Regions from separate parts of the Homo sapiens genome. Here regions 1, 3 and 4 are each linked to region 2. The links come from fine-mapping of genetic effects on gene expression. A gene starts in region 2. Each other region holds a variant in brackets. All regions are shown on one strand. Distances are between the middles of the regions. Region 1 overlaps PODXL2 (podocalyxin like 2). Region 2 holds the start of ABTB1 (ankyrin repeat and BTB domain containing 1). Region 3 holds the start of TPRA1 (transmembrane protein adipocyte associated 1). Region 4 holds the start of MCM2 (minichromosome maintenance complex component 2).

The links. PIP is the estimated chance that this variant, and not a neighbour inherited with it, causes the effect.
Region 1: its variant is fine-mapped to the expression of ABTB1 in transverse colon (GTEx, PIP 0.95).
Region 3: its variant is fine-mapped to the expression of ABTB1 in whole blood (INTERVAL, PIP above 0.99).
Region 4: its variant is fine-mapped to the expression of ABTB1 in whole blood (INTERVAL, PIP above 0.99).

What each region holds. Positions count from the first base shown.
Region 1 is chr3:127,634,378-127,639,117 of GRCh38, reverse strand. The region is part of intron 1 of PODXL2 (podocalyxin like 2); the gene reads right to left. Among named protein-coding and RNA genes, the nearest start is that of PODXL2, 7.6 kb to the right of the region's middle. RefSeq lists an enhancer at 1-273. The variant T/G (reference allele first, on the strand shown) is at 2,034.
Region 2 is chr3:127,670,959-127,675,347 of GRCh38, reverse strand. ABTB1 (ankyrin repeat and BTB domain containing 1) reads right to left here and starts at 2,396. Exons shown (of 12, transcript NM_172027.3): 1 at 2,267-2,396; 2 at 895-957; 3 at 748-803. The coding sequence starts at 2,322. PODXL2 (podocalyxin like 2) reads right to left here. Exons shown (of 8, transcript NM_015720.4): 7 at 3,735-3,914; 8 at 2,546-3,080. The coding sequence ends at 2,868. RefSeq lists silencers at 2,025-2,284, 2,425-3,024, 3,035-3,114.
Region 3 is chr3:127,587,332-127,592,071 of GRCh38, reverse strand. TPRA1 (transmembrane protein adipocyte associated 1) reads left to right here and starts at 1,339. Exons shown (of 11, transcript NM_001136053.4): 1 at 1,339-1,662. RefSeq lists silencers at 687-1,016, 1,517-1,986 and enhancers at 1,720-2,396, 2,397-3,074. The variant C/T (reference allele first, on the strand shown) is at 2,639.
Region 4 is chr3:127,596,061-127,600,800 of GRCh38, reverse strand. MCM2 (minichromosome maintenance complex component 2) reads right to left here and starts at 2,390. Exons shown (of 16, transcript NM_004526.4): 1 at 2,329-2,390; 2 at 1,254-1,483. The coding sequence starts at 2,334. It also overlaps a transcript of TPRA1 not described here. RefSeq lists a silencer at 2,092-2,251 and enhancers at 2,282-2,401, 1,755-2,712. The variant G/A (reference allele first, on the strand shown) is at 2,399.

The DNA of each region.
Region 1 (4,740 bases), 36 kb after region 2:
ACCCAGAGGCTTTGCGGGGATTCTGAGACACTATTTTCATTTCAAAAAGGCCAAATTGCTTAGACTTCCCTATGGCAGGGGCAAGGGGAGACAGATGGAGACAGGCAGGGGAGAGAGAGGAATCACTGAGTCAGTGTTCCACTGCGCATGTGGTCACTCAGAAAATGCCTCCTGAGTACCCTCTCTCTGTTGGCAATTGTACTGGGTGTTGGAGCTACAAACTGAAGTGAAGACAGGGCCCATGCTTTTAAGGACCTAGCAGTATGATTGGACGAACACAGTGTTCCCCAGGCTTCCATCCTTGGCTGAAATTTCTCCAAAACTGCATTATGAATATCATTTGTATTTCAGCAATACAGTATCCTGAACATAGTCTTTAGTTTTTTTATTTTTTATTTTTTTTGAGATGGAGTCTTGCTCTGTCGCCCAGGCTGGAGTACAGTGGTGCAATCTTGGCTCACTGCAATCTCCGCCTCCCAGGTTCAAGTGATTCTCCTGCCTCAGCCCCCCAAGTAGCTGGCATTACAGGTGCCCACCACCACGCCTGGCTAATTTTTGTATTTTTAGTACAGACAGGGTTTCGCCATGTTGGTCAGGCTGGTTTTGAACTCGTGACCTCAAGTGATCTGCCCTCCTAGGCCTCCCAAAGTGCTGGCATTACAGGCGTGCGCCACTGAGCCCAGCCTCTGAACGTAGTCTTTTAAAAAACCACGTGAGGTCACAGTTCAAACTCAACCCAGTGCTGGTAATTTGACATATTTGTTTAGAATCTTGGATTCTCTCTCTCTCCTAATTTACCAAAACAAGCAAATAAATGGACAGGAAAACAAATTAAAGGAGGCCTTTTTCCTCTTCTTTCACTCTCATTCTTTAAGGACAGGAATATAGCCCTATTTGCCAGTTTCACAACTTAACCTCTAACTTAATGACCTAACCACACAAATTACTAACTTGCTGTGAGGCTCCTGGAAAGCTGCTCAAGACCTCTGGGTCTCAGTCTCCTCACCAGATAGACAAGGAAGCTAAATGAAATGACCTCTGAATTCTTTTCCAAGACTAACACTTAAGGATCTAGGGAAGAGGGAATTTCACAGTCTTCCTCTTGCTCTACACCAGATGTGTACTGTGACCTGACTTGACTACAGTACATGGCAATTTTTAGTGATGCTTATAATAAAAATAGGGCTAATATTATTGGTGCCATGTGCTTTGCTGAGCAGGCCCTAAGCTTGATACGTGCCAATACTGTGACTGGCCACTGAAAAAAATGAGCATTTCAGACTGTCCTGTGAGTCTCCGTATGAGGGAGTCTGTGCACACTGTGCAGCAGCCAGACAACTCACAGCCAATAATGCCACATCCAGCCACAGGGGTGTATTCTGGGTTGTGTGGATGGGGGATGGGAAGTAGAGACTCCAGGGTAAGAGAGACGCCCTGAGGTCAGAGACAGGAAGATGTTCTATATAACAGGAGAGAAAGCCTGGTACCAGGAAATAGGTTACACTCTGGCTTCTCTGGCTGAGTGACTTCACCACCACCAGCCTTGCTCTCCTCCTCTGTGTAATAAGGACACCAATTCCTACCATGCCTCCAGTGTGAGGGGCACCAAATGAGGTAATTGGTGAGCCATGTGTGAAAGCTGCTCTACAAAGAGCTTTACAAACCAAACTATTCTACAAATATTGTGTTATTATCCTATATAAAAAACAGAGACCTGTGAAGTTCATGGCCCGGGGAAAAAAATATTTAAAAGAGACCATGGTATCTTCAAATACATTAAAACAAAAGGTTGATGTGAATAAGAATATCAGAGTGATTCTACATGGCCTCAAAGCCAACGCCGGGGCTAAGGAGGCATCAGAGCCTTAGCATCTGACCAGGGCTAGTAAACGTCTGTGCCAACCTCTAAGATCCCGTGAAGCTCTGTCTCTCAATAAGATAATTCACAGGCCCAACTCTCAGCTTTAGAAAGTATCATCATAACTAGAGGATGGGGCTGGGTGTGGTGGCTCACACCTGTAAATCCCAGCACT[T/G]TGGGAGGCCGAGGCGGGCGGATCACTTGAGGTCAAGAGGTCGAGACAGGCCTGGCCAATGTGGCAAAACTAGTCTCTCCTAAAACACAAAAACTAGCTGGGCATGGTGGCACACGCATGTAGTCTCCAGCTACTTGGTAGGCTAAGGCAGGAGAATTGCTTGAACCCGGGAGGCAGAGATTGCAGTGAACCAAGATGGTGCCATTGCACTCCAGCCTGGGCGACAGAGTGAGACTCTGTCTCAAAAAAATAAAAATAAAAAAATACCTAAAGGGTGGGCAAGCTGTGACCCTGGGCAGGTGGGAGCCAATGGCACTGCTGTGTTGCCAGTGCTCCTGAGGACTGCTCACAGGGGATTGCCTTCTGCCAAGTCCAAACCAGGAAGCTATCACACCCCATCCGGAATGTCTTCTGCTGTCCTAGGCACCATGTCCACGGACAAAGATTCTGCTTCCAGGCAGGGCCTGGCTCCACGAAGCTGAAGTCATGTTCCCAGAGCCTGTGTCTGAATCCCTGACTCAAAGAGAGAAACAGCCATCTCATATTTTGTGGTTTCTTTGAGCCAAAGGTATTTAAAAGGCAGAGAAAGCCAAGACAATCAATTTGGGGTCCACTCCCCTTGAAGTTCCCCTTTGTTCCTGGGAGAGGATGAATTAAGGACTTGTACTCTCTCTAGCTCAAGACTTTCCCATGACCTCTTCCACTCTAATTCCCCTTCACATCACGGGGGGACCCTAAGCTACTCTTGGATTTTTTCCTAGCCCGAATATTATAGAAGAAAGCAGTATCTATCCCCTACTAGGTAGATGGGAAAGAAACAGAGTGCCCTGTCCTACCCCAAAACAGTACCTTCTTAAGGTTCTTCCTGAGAGGGGTTATCCAATGACTCCCAATTAATAACACACATCTTTGCAATGAGACTTTGTAGCTCCTCCCATCAAGAGATGAAATCTAATTCTCCACTCCTTGAATCTGAGCTACCTTTGTGAGTTGCTACACAAGACAATGCAGAAGTGATGATGTGCCATTTCCAAGGCTAGGCATCAAGATACCTTGCACGCTTCCATTCTCTCAGGATTCTGCTCAAGGCTAGCCTGCAGGAAAACAGGAGCCCATGCAGAAGAGAGCCAGATCAGCTCAGTGTCCTAGCTGAAGTCCCAAAGTGAGAGAGCCAGACAAGACCAGCAAAGGTGATAAACAGCTGATGACAAACTTGAAGGAGTTCAGCTGAGACCAGAACCACCCAGCTGACTGCAGCCTAAATTGCCAAACTACAGAATCATGAGCTAAATAAATGGCTACCGTTTTAATCCAGTGCTTTCAAACTTGAACCAGCATGGAATCACCATGAGGGCTTGTTAAAACAGAGACTGTTAAGCCCACCCTAGAGTTCTGAATCCAGCTGGTCTGTGACGGGGCCCAACAATTTGCATTTCTAGCAAGTTCCCAGGTGATGCTTCTGTCCAGGGATCAGATCTTAAGAACTGAGAATCTGAAACCACTAAATTTTGGGGTGATTTATTACACAGAAATAGCCAAATGATACATTAAGACAAATTATAAATCAAGTTCTCCTTTTGGATCAGAGTAGTGTTTGAATGGTTAAATTCCATTCATTCATCCATCCATTCATTCATTCTTCAACCAAAAAGCCTTTATTAAATGCTTATTTGGACTAGGCATGATCCAAGGCTATGTTGGTACAGAAATAAGAAAGATAGGGTCCCTGCCCCAAAAGGGTCAGTTTCTACTACAGAGACCAGCAAGAAAACAAATCATTATGGAATAGTGTAACAGTGACCATATAACTCTGTTTGAGCCACAGGGTTAGTAGGGCAGGGAGAGAGATCTCAAAGGTAGCTACTAACAGAACTGCTCATGGCACTGTACTAACTGTGCTCAGTACACTGTGAAGGAGAAAGGAGGCTGGAGGAAATAACAACACCGGGATCTCAGGAACATGTGTTCAGTTTCCCTTTCTCTAGGGTAGACAACCATGCCACTCAGGGGGGCACATGGCCGAAATGCCCCACACTTCACGATAAAGCAAAACAGCAGAGACGATACAGAAACATAGATGTGTAGACATGAGAGACGCCTCCATTAGAATTACAGTCCTCATAGTGCTTCACCGCTGGAAGAAAAAGAGAGCTCTTTTACGAACCCCTAGCAATTCCCCCTGCACTCATCTGTCCCGAACACTGCCCTCTAATCAGCGCTTCTCAGACTGAAATGTGTGTGAGTCACCCGAGTCTTCTGACACAGTAGGTGTGACTGATGCTGCTGGTCTGTGGACCACACTTTGAGTGACAAAGCTCAGAGAGGTCTTTTTATTTATTTTTTATTTTTATTTATTTTTTCAGACAGTTTCACTCTTGTCGCCCAGGCTGGAGTGCAATGGCGCGTTCTTGGCTCACTGCAACCTCCGCCTCTCAGGTTCAAGCGATTCTCCTGCCTCAGCCTCCCGAGTAGCTGGGATTACAGGCACCTGCCACCACGCCCAGCTAATTTTTTTTTTATTTTTAGTAGAGATAGAGTTTAACCATGTTGGCCAGGCTAGTCTCCAATTCCTGACCTCAGGTGATCTGCCTGCCTCAACCTCCCAAAGTGCCGGGATTACAGGTGTGAGTCACTGTGCCCAGTCAACTTTTTTTTTTTTGAGATGGAGTTTCTCTCTTGTTGCCCAGGCTGGAGTGCAATGGCGTGA
Region 2 (4,389 bases):
TGCAGTGAACCGAGATCACACTACTACACTCCAGCCTGGGTGACAGAGCAAGACTCTGTCTCCAAAAAAAAAAAAAAAAAAAAGAAAAAACCAAAATAGGAAGAAGAATGGCACTGAATGAAGGGAAGTCATGAAAGGTCACTCTGTAATGGTGGCAGCATGCAGAGACCTGAATGAAGGGGGAGTGGGCCATGTGAACGTTTGCAGAACGGCAGTCCATGCAGGAGGAACTGCAGGTGCAAAGGCCCTGGGGCAGGAACAGGGGCATGCATAGCACAGTGGAGCCCCAGCGAGGCCAGTGTAGCAGCAAGCAAGCAGCAAGCAAGCAGGGAGAGCCGAAGGAATGAGGCCAGTGGGAGGGCAGACCCTGTGGAGCCTTGGGCATGGCCAGGCAGGCTCACTGTATCCTAGAGGCAATGGGAACTTGCTGGAGGATTTTTAGCCGATCAGATTCATTGTGAAAAGATCAACTTGGCTGCAATGGCAAGAGAGAGGCAGGCACCGTGTCCGGGGAGAAATGCTGATGACTGGGCCCAGGTCGTAGAAGTAGAGATGGGCAAGGTGGACAGAGAAAAGGTTTTAAAGTAGCAATAATAGTACTTGCTGATTCGACTGGGTGGTAAGAGAGGAATCGTGGTGCTTTGCAAATGTGTATCAAGGCCTTTGAATGCACGCACGCATGCATGCACCCACACGCACACATGCATGCACCCACGCACACCCGTGAGCCGGGCTCCCTGCTCTCACCATTGGCCAGAAGGTAGAGTACCAGCTCCTCGTGCCCACACAAGCAGGCATAGTACCTGAAGGGAGGAAGGAAGTACAGGAGGCAGTCCTCAGTGCTGAAGGGGTGCACCAACCCCCACCCTCCCCACCCCTCTCTCCAGCACTCACAAGGGGGTGCTGTCCCACTTGTCCCGCACATTCACCTCCACGTCTCGCTGCTCCAGCAGGTACCTGGGCAGGAAGGAGGTCAGAGCCTGGGTCAGGACGGGTTCATGGTCTGAGAAAGAAGGCCCGTGGAAAGGAACGGAGAGAAAACATCCCTTTTGGTATGGGGAAGCCTCCCCCAGGTGAGGGCAGGTGACAGGCAGACCAGAGCAGGAGAGGCACTCAAGGCAAAGTGCAGGCAAGGATGTGGAGGTGGGGTCGAACAGGCAGACACTGTGTGCTATCAGTGCTGGGGGACGATGGGCTACAGGGACAGAAGCCAGAGCCAGTGCCGAGGCTGGACCTTTGGCCTTTCAGCGTTTGGGAGAGGAGGTGATGGAGCCTTCACTCCCACCAGAGCTCTCTACTGCAGGAAGAAGCTGGCCCTGTTAGAAGCAGGGAGCCCGGGAAAAAGCTGCTGCAGGCCTCCTGATGGTGTGGAGGGCACACAATTCTAGGAGGCAGGAGTCGCGGGATACAGCAACTGATGGGATGCGGAAGGTGAGCGAGGGGAGTCGCCAATGCTAATGCAGCCCCACTGAGGCGGGGGCAGCCCAAAGGAGGCCTCCAGGCTGCACCTGGAAGTGCTGTGAACCCACTCAGCGTTGACACTATGCACTAACTCTTGAGTGGCACGGGATGTCAGGGAGCGGCCCAGGGAGGCTACGGGAGTACAGCAGCCCGGCGCCAGCCCAGGGGAGGTGGAAGCAGTCAGTCAGCACCAGGTCAAGGGGGAGGAAGGGCCAAGAAAAAAGGAGGTCAAACGGGATAGTGGAAGCCCAAGGAGGGGAAGGGCCCCAGAACCCAACTGGGCACCCCTTCCCTCCGCGTCCGGCCCATGGAGGGGGCATCTCAGCGCCAGATTCACTTTAGCTGCGTCAGGAGTTTCCGAATCCTCAGGGACCGGAGGCCGATTATGGGCTCTAGGTGTTCCCCGCGCCAGGTCCAGAGAGCACGAGAGAAAGGGGCCACGTCTGGAGTCCCAGGCCTATACCCGCGCCCTGCGCCCGGGGGGTCTGACGTCCGGGCCCTACCAGGGCGAACAGTGGCCCGCCTTCTCTCCGCCCACTTCTGCGCCTTCGGGCCTCCGCTGAGCAGTCCCTTCTTACAGGAAGCCCTCCGGGGGTCAATGGCCATCAGTGTCCCCGCCCCAGCGCGCTTCCGCTGGGGGGCTGCGGCGGGGGTCCGGGTGGTCTGCCCCGCGGGGGCGCTCCGAGGGCTGTGACCCGGCAGAGGCGCCCGCCTCTCCGCGGCCGCCCAGCCGCCCGTCCCAGGGCCCGAGGCGTTCCGAGGGCGGCCACCTCCCGCACCCTCCCCGGGACTGCGAGGTCCTCACCGCACTCGGCCCACATCCCCCTTCCTGCAGCTGGCGAACAGGTCGCTGGTGTCCATGGCGCGGAGGATGGTACCCGAGCCGAACGACCTCGGGCGGCGAAGCCGCGCACCCGGCGGATGTAAACACGCTCAGCCCCGCCCCGCCCCGCTCTGCAGCGGCGTCCGGAGGACCCGCCCGCCCCGGCCTCCCCGCCCCGCGGCCCCGCCCCTGCCCCGGGGTGCCCCGCCCGCCCCGCCCCGCCCCAACCCCGGAAATAAGAATGAGTCAAGAAGGCAGACGCGCTGGGCCCGGCGTGGTCTCCGGGCGGGTTTAATTGAGTCCCGGGGCGCAGGAAGCGCCGCCCGCCGCCCGCGGGGCCGGGGTTCAGGGGCGGGAAAGCGGGGCCAAGGCGGGCTTTGAGGCCTGCCCCTCGGGCGGGAGTGAGGGAGTTGGTCCGAAGCCGCCGTGTGAAGTCGGGGGAAGCGGGAAGGAGCCCGCGCCGAGGGCCAGGCCGCGGGGGCGGCCCGGGTAGGCGCGGGGCTGGTGCGGGCTCCGGGCCGTCCGTTTCGGGGTCCACCTCGCTTGGTCCTGGCGGCCCACTCGGCCTGCGCCTCGGCTGCGCTCACAGGTGCGTGTCCTCCTCGAACACGTCCGAGTCCTCGGGGTCCCGCTTGCCCCCCATGAGCGCCCCCCAGCTCCCCGGGCCGTTGAGGGCCCCGCCGCCGTTCAGGCTGGGGTGCTTCTCCTGCATCTCCGACTGGCTGTCGCTGGCCACGTCCAGCGTGGGGTTGTCGTGGCAGCCGTTCTCCACGAAGCGCAGCTCCTCGCCGTGCGACTGAGGCGGGGTGGGGAGAGGCCATGGGCGAGCGAGCCAGCCCCCGGACAGCGCCAGGCCCGCGGCCGTCTGTGCAACCCCACCCAGGGGGTTCCCGCGGCACCCTCCACAGGTGCCAGATCCTTCTTTTCTGTTGCTGCAGCTCAACTCCTTTCTCAAAATAAACCTACTAGTCGTTGGCACTACAAAGCCCCGTGGCCTCCCTGACGTCATCGATCCCCCAACAGCCCCCTAAGAAGACTCCACTTGCGAGGTGGGCAGGGAGCATCGCTAGGGCTCTGCTCGCTTCCTCCTGGGGAGGCCTCTAGGCTGCTGGAGCCTCTCCTTGATCCTTGGGCACCACCAACGCAGGGCCTGCCTCTGGTGAGGTATTCAGGTGCTCAGGCCCTGCAGTGCCTGCGCCGGAAAGGGGCTGGTGGTGCCAGGGAGGGGCCCCCTGGTGGGGCTAGCAGCCCCCTCACTCCCTGCACCTCTGGCACCTGTCCTGGGGCTGGTGCCCTGCAGAGCAGTCAGCAGTGCTAGGCTGACCAGCTGCTTCACCCACGGGACCCTGTGCGCCCAGGAGAGTCACTGCCTCCCCTTGCAGATGAGGACACCTATCGATGGGCACTCTCCTCTCAACTGGCCCCCAGCCCCACCTGTCCCCACACTCACCACGTGCTTGAGCTTGGGCAGCCGGCGCTGCCAGCAGTTGTAGAGCAGGCCAAGCGCAATGATGATGATGCAGATGGCCCCAATGACCACCAGCACCACGAAGAGCGTGCCGTAGTCGCTGCGCACCTGGCTGGCCCGCGCCTGGCAGCTGCTGGTTGTGGAATAGTTCTGGATGCCAATCTAGGGGTGGGAGGGGCCAGTTTCCTCAGCTGAGGTCCTGGGGTGCCATGGCTCCTCTGGGGTGGTTGCATTGGGCTCGGGTGGGGATGGGGGAGCAGGCTTAGAAGGTGCTGGCACTCCCGGCTCCTGAAGTTCCCTGGCGCCTGGGCTTGCCTCTACCCCATGCCCATCCCGTTTGCCTCAGTACACCTGGAGGCCTCTCCACCCCATGCCCATGTTCCCAGCCTCCTTCACATCCCACCATAGCTTCTGCCCCAGCCGCTGAGTCTGAGCTCACTGTGGCCCTAGGCCTCCAGTGAGAGTGGACCCATGCTGCTGGACACCATCCAACTAGAGAGAGTGCCCACACCTATCCTAACTAGTTAGAGAGACAGGAGATGTGAGCCCCCCACACATCCTCCACCATACAACCGCTTCCACCTCGGTGGGGAGGGGTGGACCAGTCAGCTTCCTGATGCCAGGGCCGGTGCAGGGA
Region 3 (4,740 bases), 83 kb after region 2:
CCAGCCTCTCTGGCGAATATAGAAGCCTAAACTTAGGTATGCACATTTGGGTGTGGTCCAGGCTGGGAAAGTCCCAGAGGATCACAAGGTGGTTTCTTCCCCAATCTCCCTGTGTTTTTAGGACAGGAGCAAGGAGAAGAATGGGACCCAATCTCATTCCAGCCCAGCGGTGCTGTCGCAAGGTGTGAGTCTTGGGGTGCCTGTAATAACTGAGTGCCTACAATCTGCACGAGGCTCTGAGTCAGCCTCAGGATGCTGCAGGGGACATCCTGCAGCTTGGCTCTCTTGGCTCCATCCTCATGACGCTGGAATTCTATAATAGGGTGGGGAGACTGGACGGGGAGGCAGGTAAATGAAAACAATCAGGTGAGAATTAAGATGCTCGGAAGGAAATGAGACTGGACAGCCGCTCCAGCGAGGGTGTCCACAAAACCCTCTAGAGGACATGATGTGGCAAGGAGCCAGCTCTGCGGGGGAACAGGTGTAGAGCCAGGAGCAGGAACAAGCTTGGAACAGCCGAGGGACAGAAACAGAGACCCGCATGGCTTGAGTATGGTGAATGCAGCATCGATGCCAGGGGATAAGACAGGCGCAATCAGGGAGGGCTTTCCAGAGGAACAGGCGTGAAGAACTGTGGAAGTTAGAGTTGGGGAGAGGCGTCCTGGCTGTGTCGCTTCCTCATTGCGCGGCTTTGGTCAAGTTATTTGACCTCTCCAAGCCTCAGGTGGCCCTGTAAAAGGTGACTATAATGACTGCCTAGCAGGGTTGCTAAGAGGAGTGCCCGAGGCATGGCGGCGCCGCGTGGAGCAGGGCGCTGGGAGGCGGCGGCCCTGCGGCGTGGCGCGGCTGGAGCGCGTGGCGCCGGGGAGGGTCCCCGACACGCCTTCCCCCAAGCTGACCCCAGGTCACCCCTGCAGGGCGCCCGAAGCGCCCGCACGCGAGGGGGCGGTCCCCGGAGGCTCCGCCCCGACGGTCCGGCCGCGGCCCAGGCCGGGAGGTGGAGCGCGGCTGCCGCCAGCTGGTCCACTGACAACTGCTGCCAGCTGGAAGGCGCGTAGGGCGAGAGGTGGCGCGTCCTCAGCTTTCCAGTCTTCGATTCCGCCCGCTTTCCGAGTGAGAAACGCAGGCCTCTCTCTTCCGTGAAGCAGCGTCTTGTCTCTGCACCTCCTCTGTGCTGTCTCTTTAAGAGGTCAGCGGGCTGCTCCGCCTCTTGGGAATTTGATTGGTCTCTCCCACTTTTTTTTTTTTTTCCCCCAGTGATGACTTATTCCTATAGGCTGCTGGAGGTTAGAGGGCGGGCCTGAGTGATAACAGGGACTCTGGGACTCTGGGACTTGTGGGACTGTGGCCGTTTTCGCAATTTGGGCTGGACGAAAAAGACGGTCTTGCTTTCCCGGTCGCCGCTGTCGGGAAGGGCTGCAGGGTGTCCGCGAGACCCGCGGCCCGGCGAGCTGACCCCGCCTCGCCTTTCCTGCCTAGCCCTCATTCCACGGAGCCGGTCGCGCCCGGTCCTTGCGCGACGCTTCCCGGCCCAGGCCGCCTGGTCTGGCGCTGGAGGCCGGAGTCCCGCGGCCTGTGCTGGATCCGCGCACACCCAGTGGCGGCGGATGGGCGGCCGGGGCGGCCGGGGCGGCCGGTCCTGAGCGCGGCCCGGGCTGTCAGGTAAGGAGGGGCCTTCTCCCCGTCTCCTGCCGCAGCTAGAGGGGGAGCCCCGTCCCTCGCCCCGGCGGGAAGCCCAGCCGCCGTTCCCCTCCTTGCTCCGCGAGCGGCCCATTTCCGCTCGGGCGCAGCTCGGACGGCCAAGGCGGCGTTTGGGAGGGAAGGCCCTGGATGTGGGAACCCACGGGAGGGGTGCCGGGCAGTCGGGAGTCGCTCGGGGCGCGGGGGCACGCGAGGCCCGGGAGGGAGCCGCACGTAGCGGCGTCGGGCTCGGCCCCGGCTGGAGGCAGTGCGGGTGGAGATCCGGACCTCGGCGACCCGGTCCGGCGCGGGGTGGCGGCACGGGCTCCAGCCCCACGGTGGCTGCCCGCAGCGGCCGAGGTGCTCCTGAGCCAAGCCTGCCGCCGGTTCGGGGCTTTGCTGCCCCGTGAGGGGGCCATGTCGAAGCCTCCGCTCCCTCTGGACTCGGGGAATGCAGGTGGGGGCTGGCTTTGCCCTCTTCTCTGCAGTGAGGAGGGGCCGCAGGGTCGTCCAGTCCCCAGCGGGGCTTGGCGGTGCTGGAGATTCAGTTGTTCCCGTCATAACAACCTGTTGAGGGCTCGTGTCGTGCCAGGCCTTGTTCTAGGGGACCGAGTCCTGAGCACTCCCGGGATAGAGAGTAGTAAATACCCAGACGCGGCTCGGGCGCTGGAGACAGCTGAGAAGGGAAGGCTTCTCAGAGGAGGTGTCAGGAGAGAGCTGGGGGAGAGCCAGCCCAAAGGCCCTGAGGAACGGACCAGCTCAGCAGGTGGAAGGCAAGCAGGGAGGGCAAGGTGCAGGTCAGATTGGGCCCAGGCCTCCCCATCTTACTGGGGTCTCCGGCTTAGGACAGGGACCACACGCCTGCCAGCCCCAAGGCCGAAGGACAACAGGGGAGAGCAAAGTAACTTACTTGGCCTCTGCCCTATGGAGCCTTCCCCACCTTGTCACCCCTGGGCTC[C/T]ACCCCTTCTCACCACCCTTAGGCCCTAGGGTTTGTAAGCTCAACAACCCGTCGGTGTGGGAAGCACTGAGGGCCCCTCTCCCCAGGGTTTCCTATCCGGTAGCTGTGGGTGGGGTTTGGTCAATCCTGTTGCACAGATGAGAGAGCAGGGAAAGCTGAGTCCCAGAGAGGAGAGAGAAGGCCTTACCCAGTCGTTCTCAGCGGGTCCTGCATTGCGTGACCATGACCTGAGCCTAGCCAGCATCCTGTCCCTCAACTGGGTGGGAGGGAGGGAGGCAGAGGCCCCTGGAATGTTGTGAGTCTGGGAGACTCCTCCCAGGTGGAAGAAACAGTCTGTCCCAGTTTCCCTGTTCCTGGGAGGCCTGGGGTTGCCCAGGGTGCTCTGCACCGCAGGAATTCCTCCTCTGAGAATCACCCCTGGGCTCCACCCCTTCTCACCACCCCTTCTCACCACCCTTAGGCCCCTATCGTGAGCTGACCAACCCCTCCCACTTCTTTGTCAGTGCTTGGGAGCATCAGTCTAAGAGAACTAAGTAGAGAAGGCTGAGGACTGACCCCTTCTCTGCCTCTCCTCTCCTCTGTATAAGGGGACAGTAATTGTCCTCTCTCCCTTAGAAGGCGATGCCATTGTTAAGTGTGTCACCACGTGTAAAGCACTGAGCACCATGTCTGCACATAGGAAGTGTGCATCCTATTAACTAAAAGTCAGTGCGGGCCAGGCGCAGTGGCTCATGCCTGTAATCGTAGCACTTTGGGAGGCTGAAGTGGGTGGATCATCTGAGGTCAGGAGTTTGAGACCAGCTTGGCCAACATGGTGAAACCCCATTTCTACTAAAAATACAAAAATTAGCCGGGTGTGGTGGTGCACACCTGTAATCCCAGCTACTCAGGAGGCTGAGGCGGGAGAATCGCTTGAATCCAGGAGGCGGAGGTTGCAGTGACCCAAGATCGCACCATTGCACTCCAGCCTAGGTGACAAAGCGAGACTCTGTCTCAAAAAAAAAAAAAAAAAAAAGTCAGTGCTTCAGTTATTTCCTAAGCTTTGATACGTAATGGCAATCCTGGTATGGCCAGCAGCCCCATAACCCCAGTGTGGTTGCTGGATCAAGTAGCAGCAGCAGGGGCACCACCTGGGAGCCTGTGGGAAACACAGACTGTTCAGCCCTACCCCTGCCCTTGGGAGCAGCATCTGCATGTTAACAACACCAGGGTATTTCCCACATCAGGTCTGAGAAGATAGCTCTAGAACAAGCCTGGTGCTCTTGACCCACAGGTGGAGAAGCCGAGGCCTGGAGAGGGGCACCTGGCAAGTTGTTGACTGGGGGCCTGGGCTCTGGAGACAGACAGCCTGGATTGCTGGCCTGGCAAGTGGCTGCCCCTCTGAGCTCCACGTGCACAATGCGGATAACATAAGTACCTCCCTCCCAGGGTTGGAGGCCAGGGCTCAGAGGTTAGGCACAGAGGTTACTACGTTGTTGGCAGGGGAGTGGGGGCAGGCAGAGCAGCTGACACCTCCTCTGTGTTTCCTCAGACCCCACAGCAATGGGGGCTTCACAAGAGGTCCATGGACCTGGGAACCAATTCCTTTCCCTCCTTGCCCTTCAGTCTCTTCTCTGGTAATCCCAGCAACTTGGGAGGCTGAGGTGGGAGAATTGCTTGAACCCGGGAGGTGGAGGTTGCAGTGAGCCGACATCGCGCCACTGCACTCCAGCCTGGACGACAGAGCAAGACTCTGTCTCAAAAAAAAAAAAAAAAAAAGAAAAGCAGCAACCACCTTTGTACATGTGTCACTTTTGTAGATGTTTACATCCCTGGTTTTGTTTGATCCTTACGGCACCCTTATTAGGCAGATGTTGTCCCCATGATACTTGGAGGGGGAGTGACTCACCCCAGGTCACACAGCAAGCACGTGGCAGAACCAGCAGTGCAGCCCCGTCTTGTTGACTCCAAAATCTGTGTTAGCTGGAGGTTTTTCACTGGTGAATTAGAGAAGTCAGACTCAAACTGGCCTAGGCAGAAAAGGGGATTTGTTGGGTTTTATAACTGAAAAGTCCAAGCGGGTAGGACTGGCTTTGGATGTGGCTGAATCCAGGGGCTCCAGT
Region 4 (4,740 bases), 75 kb after region 2:
CCTCTCTCTTTGCTTCTCAGAGAAGCAAAGAGAAAGGGTCAAGACAGGGAGGGGAAACAGCAGAGGAGGGGCATCCGGCCTGAACAACTCCATCAGGCAGAACAGGAAAGCCGTCTAGGACCCATGCCCTGACCCCAAGTCCAGGGCAGATTTATCCAGACTCCTCATTCCTTCTACAGCCTACAGCACATGCAGTCTCATCGTTGGGGGTGGTACTGATAATAGCAAAGATGCATCCAGTCTGGAGTGCCCTTGAAAGCCTCTCAACTGTCTGACATCCTAGGGACGGCAGGATGCCCTGCACAGTACTCTCACACATGCTAAGGCTGAAAAGGCACAAAAGGAGCATCTCCACGAGGCTCCTGGGCATTCACACAATTCCGCTACTGACGTTATCTACCAGATCGCAGCTGGAAATGCAGAGTAAGGCAGGGGTAGAAATCTAGCCTTGCTTATGCGCAGAGCTTACTCCACTCTCCTAGCATTAAGTCTTGCTAACTTATTTATTTATTTATTTTTGAAACAGAGTTTCACTCTTTTCGCCCAGGCTGGAGTGCAGTGGTGTGATCTCAGCTCACTGCAACCTATGCCTCCTGGGTTGAAGTGATTCTCCTGCCTTAGCCTCCCAAGTAGCTGGGACTACAAGCACGCACCACCATGCACAGCTAATTTTTTGTATTTTTAGCAGAGACGGGGTTTCACCCTGTTGACCAGGCTGGTTTCAAACTCCTGACCTCAGGTGATCCGCCCACCTCGGCCTCCCAAAGTGCTGGGATTACAGGTGTGAGCCACCACATGTTTACTAATAAACAAGACCATTCCTAACAAAGGGCATGGTGCACATTAGGTACAATAAATGTTTGCTGATTGACTCTAAAACTTTATTTATCAGATCCCTCCTCCCCCATGCACCTTTCCTTTGAAAAGTTACTGGGAAACACTGGGCTTCCTGCTTCCTGTCTTTTTGAGTTGGAGTATTCCAGATTAGAGACCCCTACATTCTCTGGGGTGCTTATGGAGTCGGGGCTTATCCTCAGCTTAGGGTCTAGTCTTTCCAAGTTACATGCAGTAAGTTAAAGAGACCTGTGTCATGGCTCTGTAAACCTGTCTCCTCAGAACCCTGGATCAAGCTGTGCTCAAAGGCAAGAATGCCATCGATTCATCTGCTCCCAGCTCCCAAAGCCAGGCCACCAGGCACACAATGGGCTCTCTGCAAAACTATCTGCTGAGTCCAGGGCCTTGAATGAAATTACCTTTCCATGCCATCTCCAATGAGCTCCTCTCCATCCTCTTCTTCCTCCAGGGGCCCCTCTGTGCCTAGGAGCCCCTCGGACTCATCCTCAAATGGTGGAAGGTCACGGCCAGGGCTGGAGGTGAGGGCATCAGTACGCCGGGAGCTTCGGCCAGGGCTGGAGGTGAGAGGATCATTGCCTCGCCGACGCTGGGCCGGGCTGGATGCCATGGTGAAGGATTCCGATGATTCCTGCAAGAGAAGGTGCGGTTGTCAGAAACCTAGGAAGCTGGTGAGGCATGATACAGCTTCCTTTTTACCATCAGGGGCCTTCCCTTCTTTCTCTCCACCTGTGACTCTTGTCCTCCAACACACCAAACCCCTTCCAGCCTCCAGATCTTTGCCCTTGCTGTTCTCTCACCTGGAATGCTCTCAGCTGAGCAATCTGAGTCAGTGGCTTCCAAACAAATAGAAGCCAGCTCAAATATCGGGGTCACCCACATCACCGTGCTTTCTCCATGAAAAACCACTGAGGTTATGTCATTTGCCTATTTACCTGTTTACTGTCTATTATCTCCCCTTAAGCATTAGACCTATTTCAGCACACACAGTGCGCAAGGTATTGTGATAGAGATGGCATAGAAGAGCCACCAAAACAAGAGGTCTGGAACTCAGATGTGGAACAGACAGTATACAAGACAAAGGGACAAGAAGGTAATACAAAAGTAAGTGTAGTGTTTGGAACAAGGATCATTGGGAAATTAAAAAAAAAAAAAGTTTAAAGGAGTGTAGTGAAATGGGGGCCTGTCTTTTGTACGCTCAGCGCCACACAGATGGCGCCCAATAAGTATGTGTGGGGTGAATAAAGGACAGAGGCTGAACGGGCCGAGCTCGCCTTAGGGAGCCCAGGGCCCCAGGTCAGTGGTAGGTAGGCGAGTCGCCTCACGCAGGGTGCAGGCGAGAAAGTAGCTGCGCCCCAGAGCCTGGGGCCCAGCCTCACCCAGAGCGCCGCCCTGGGCCGGGGCCAGAGTACGGGAAGCGCGCAGCCTCCGCACCCATGTCCCCGGCGCCCGCCCGCCACGCGCCAGCGCGCTCACCGCCATAGCAGTACCACGATCCTCTCCGCCACTACAGCAACAACCAGGTTTCGCGCGAAAAGTGGTTCAC[G/A]TGACCCACCAAAGCCCGGGAAGAGCCCTACGGAACGCGACGTCATGACGTCGGCGTCCACTGGCGACCAGAAGGGACACGGAGGGGCGGGCCAGAGGGTCCGGTCCCGCCTACAACGCCCGAGGCGCTCCGCCCAGAGCCCGGAGGTGTGCGGCCCGGCGCTGTGCGCGTGCGCTCGCCTGCGCTGTGGTGGGAGCTGGAGCGGAGGTAGAAGCTGAGGCTCCAGGGGACCCGACGACACTTGCTGGCTGCGTGACCTCGGTCACACCAGGGCCATTTTGCTGACAAGACAACAGAGGCCGGGCGCGGTGGCTCACGCCTGTAATCCCAGCACTTTGGGAAGCCGAGGTGGGCGGATCACAAGCTCAGGAGTTCGAGACCAGCCTGACTAACATGGTGAAACCCAGTCTTTACTAAAAATACAAAAATTAGTTGGGCATGGTGGCACGGGCCTGTAATCCCAGCTACTCGGGAGGCTGAGGCAGAAGAATCGCTTGAACCTGGGAGGTGGAGGTTGCGGTGAGCCGAGATCCCGCCACTGCACTCCAGCCTGGGTGACAGAGTGAGACTCCGTCTCAAAAAAAAAAAAAGACAGCAGAGGTTCAGAGCCTGGTTTTCTGACGCTTCTTACCGTCTTAGGAGCACAATGGTTTAACTTCTCCCAAAGCTCAAAGGCTCAATACTTCAAGCAGCTGGACAACTCTGGGATTTTGTAGGAGGTCACATCTGAGGCTTTAGTAGGAGTTATCTTTGCCCAGGGGAGCGAAGACGCAGGGAGGATGTTACAGATAGAAGGATGCCATGTGCAAAGCTGCAGAGGTCATGGCAGGGCCCGGATGTGCAAGCCCCTCCCTAAGAACTAACCCTAGGAGCTTATGATGCCGGGCAACAGACAAGACTTGAGGGAGAGAAAATCCGGATCAAAAAAGAGCTAGATGTTTTTCTAGAGAGTTTGACTATTCTGTATTCTGAAAGCAATGGAAGGCCATGGAAGCATTTTGAGCAGGGTGAGACGTGAACTAGTGTGGGTTTTAGAATCCCTCTGGCTGCTACCAGGTGGAAGTGGATTGAACGAGGTTGAAGGCAGCAAACGAGGAGGTTGCTGTGGTTCTTGTCTAGTTCCAGGCAGCCTTAGTGAGCAGAGGCAGGGCTGAATCGCAACCCTCTTAGCCAGGCACTTTGTGCAGTGAACAAGCATCTCTGCCTGGGACCCAGGGTAGGGAGGCAGGAGTGATGGAGAGAACTGGAAATACAAGATGTTTAGGAGGTGGAATCTTTTTTTTTTTTTTGAGACAGAGTCACTCTGTCACCCAGGCTGGAGTGCAGTGGTGCAACCTCAGCTCACTGCAACCTCCACCTCCCAAGTTCAAGCGATTCTCGTGCCTTAGCCTCCCGAGTAGCTGGGATTAGAGATGCACGCCATTGTGCCCGGTTAATTTTTGTATTTTTAGTAGAGATGGGATTTCACCATTGTTAGCTAGGCTGGTCTCCAACTCCTGACAAGTGGATCCGCCTGCCTTGGCCTCCCATAGTGCTAGGATTACAGGCGTGAGCCACCACGCCCGGCCAGGAAGTGGGGTCTATAGGTGTTGGTGATTGAGGACAGCAAAAGAGGCATGCAGGATGACACCAGGATCCTGGCTTAGCTAGGTGGATGATAGCTGAGATAGGAGCGCACAGGAAGACCAGCAATTTAAGGGGGAAGAAGATGAGTTTGTTTCTGGCTGTGCTGAATTTGGGCCGAGGGGACATATCCAGGAAGCTGTTGGATATCCATGTATGGGACTCAAGGGCGTGTTTGGACTGAAGCTGTAGATTGCCTTGGGAGTGGTTGTATAATCCAGAGTGAGTGCAGGGAGATGAGAAGGTCTAAGCCTGGGACCTGGGAAACCCCAACAGTTAAGAGACACCAACAAAGGATGTGAAGGATGCACCTCGGATGCTAGGAGCTGCTGACAGGAAAGCTGAAGAGACTCTGCATGGGCTTGTGTTATCTATTGCTGCATAAAAAATTATCCTGGGATGGCCAGGCATGGTGGCTCACACCTGTAATCCCAGCACTTTGGGAGGCTGAGGCAGGTGGATCACCTGAGGTCAGGAGTTCAAGACCAGCCTGACCAACATGGAGAAACCCTGTCTCTATTAAAAATCCAAAATTAGCCAGGCGTAGTGGCGCATGCCTGTAATCCCAACTACTCAGGAGGCTGAGGCAGGAGAATCACTTGAACACTGGAGGTGGAGGTTGCGGTGAGCCGAAATTGTGCCATTGCACTCCAGCCTGGGCAAAAAGAGCGAAACTCTATCTCAAAAAAAAAAAAATTATCCTGGGATTTAGCACCTTG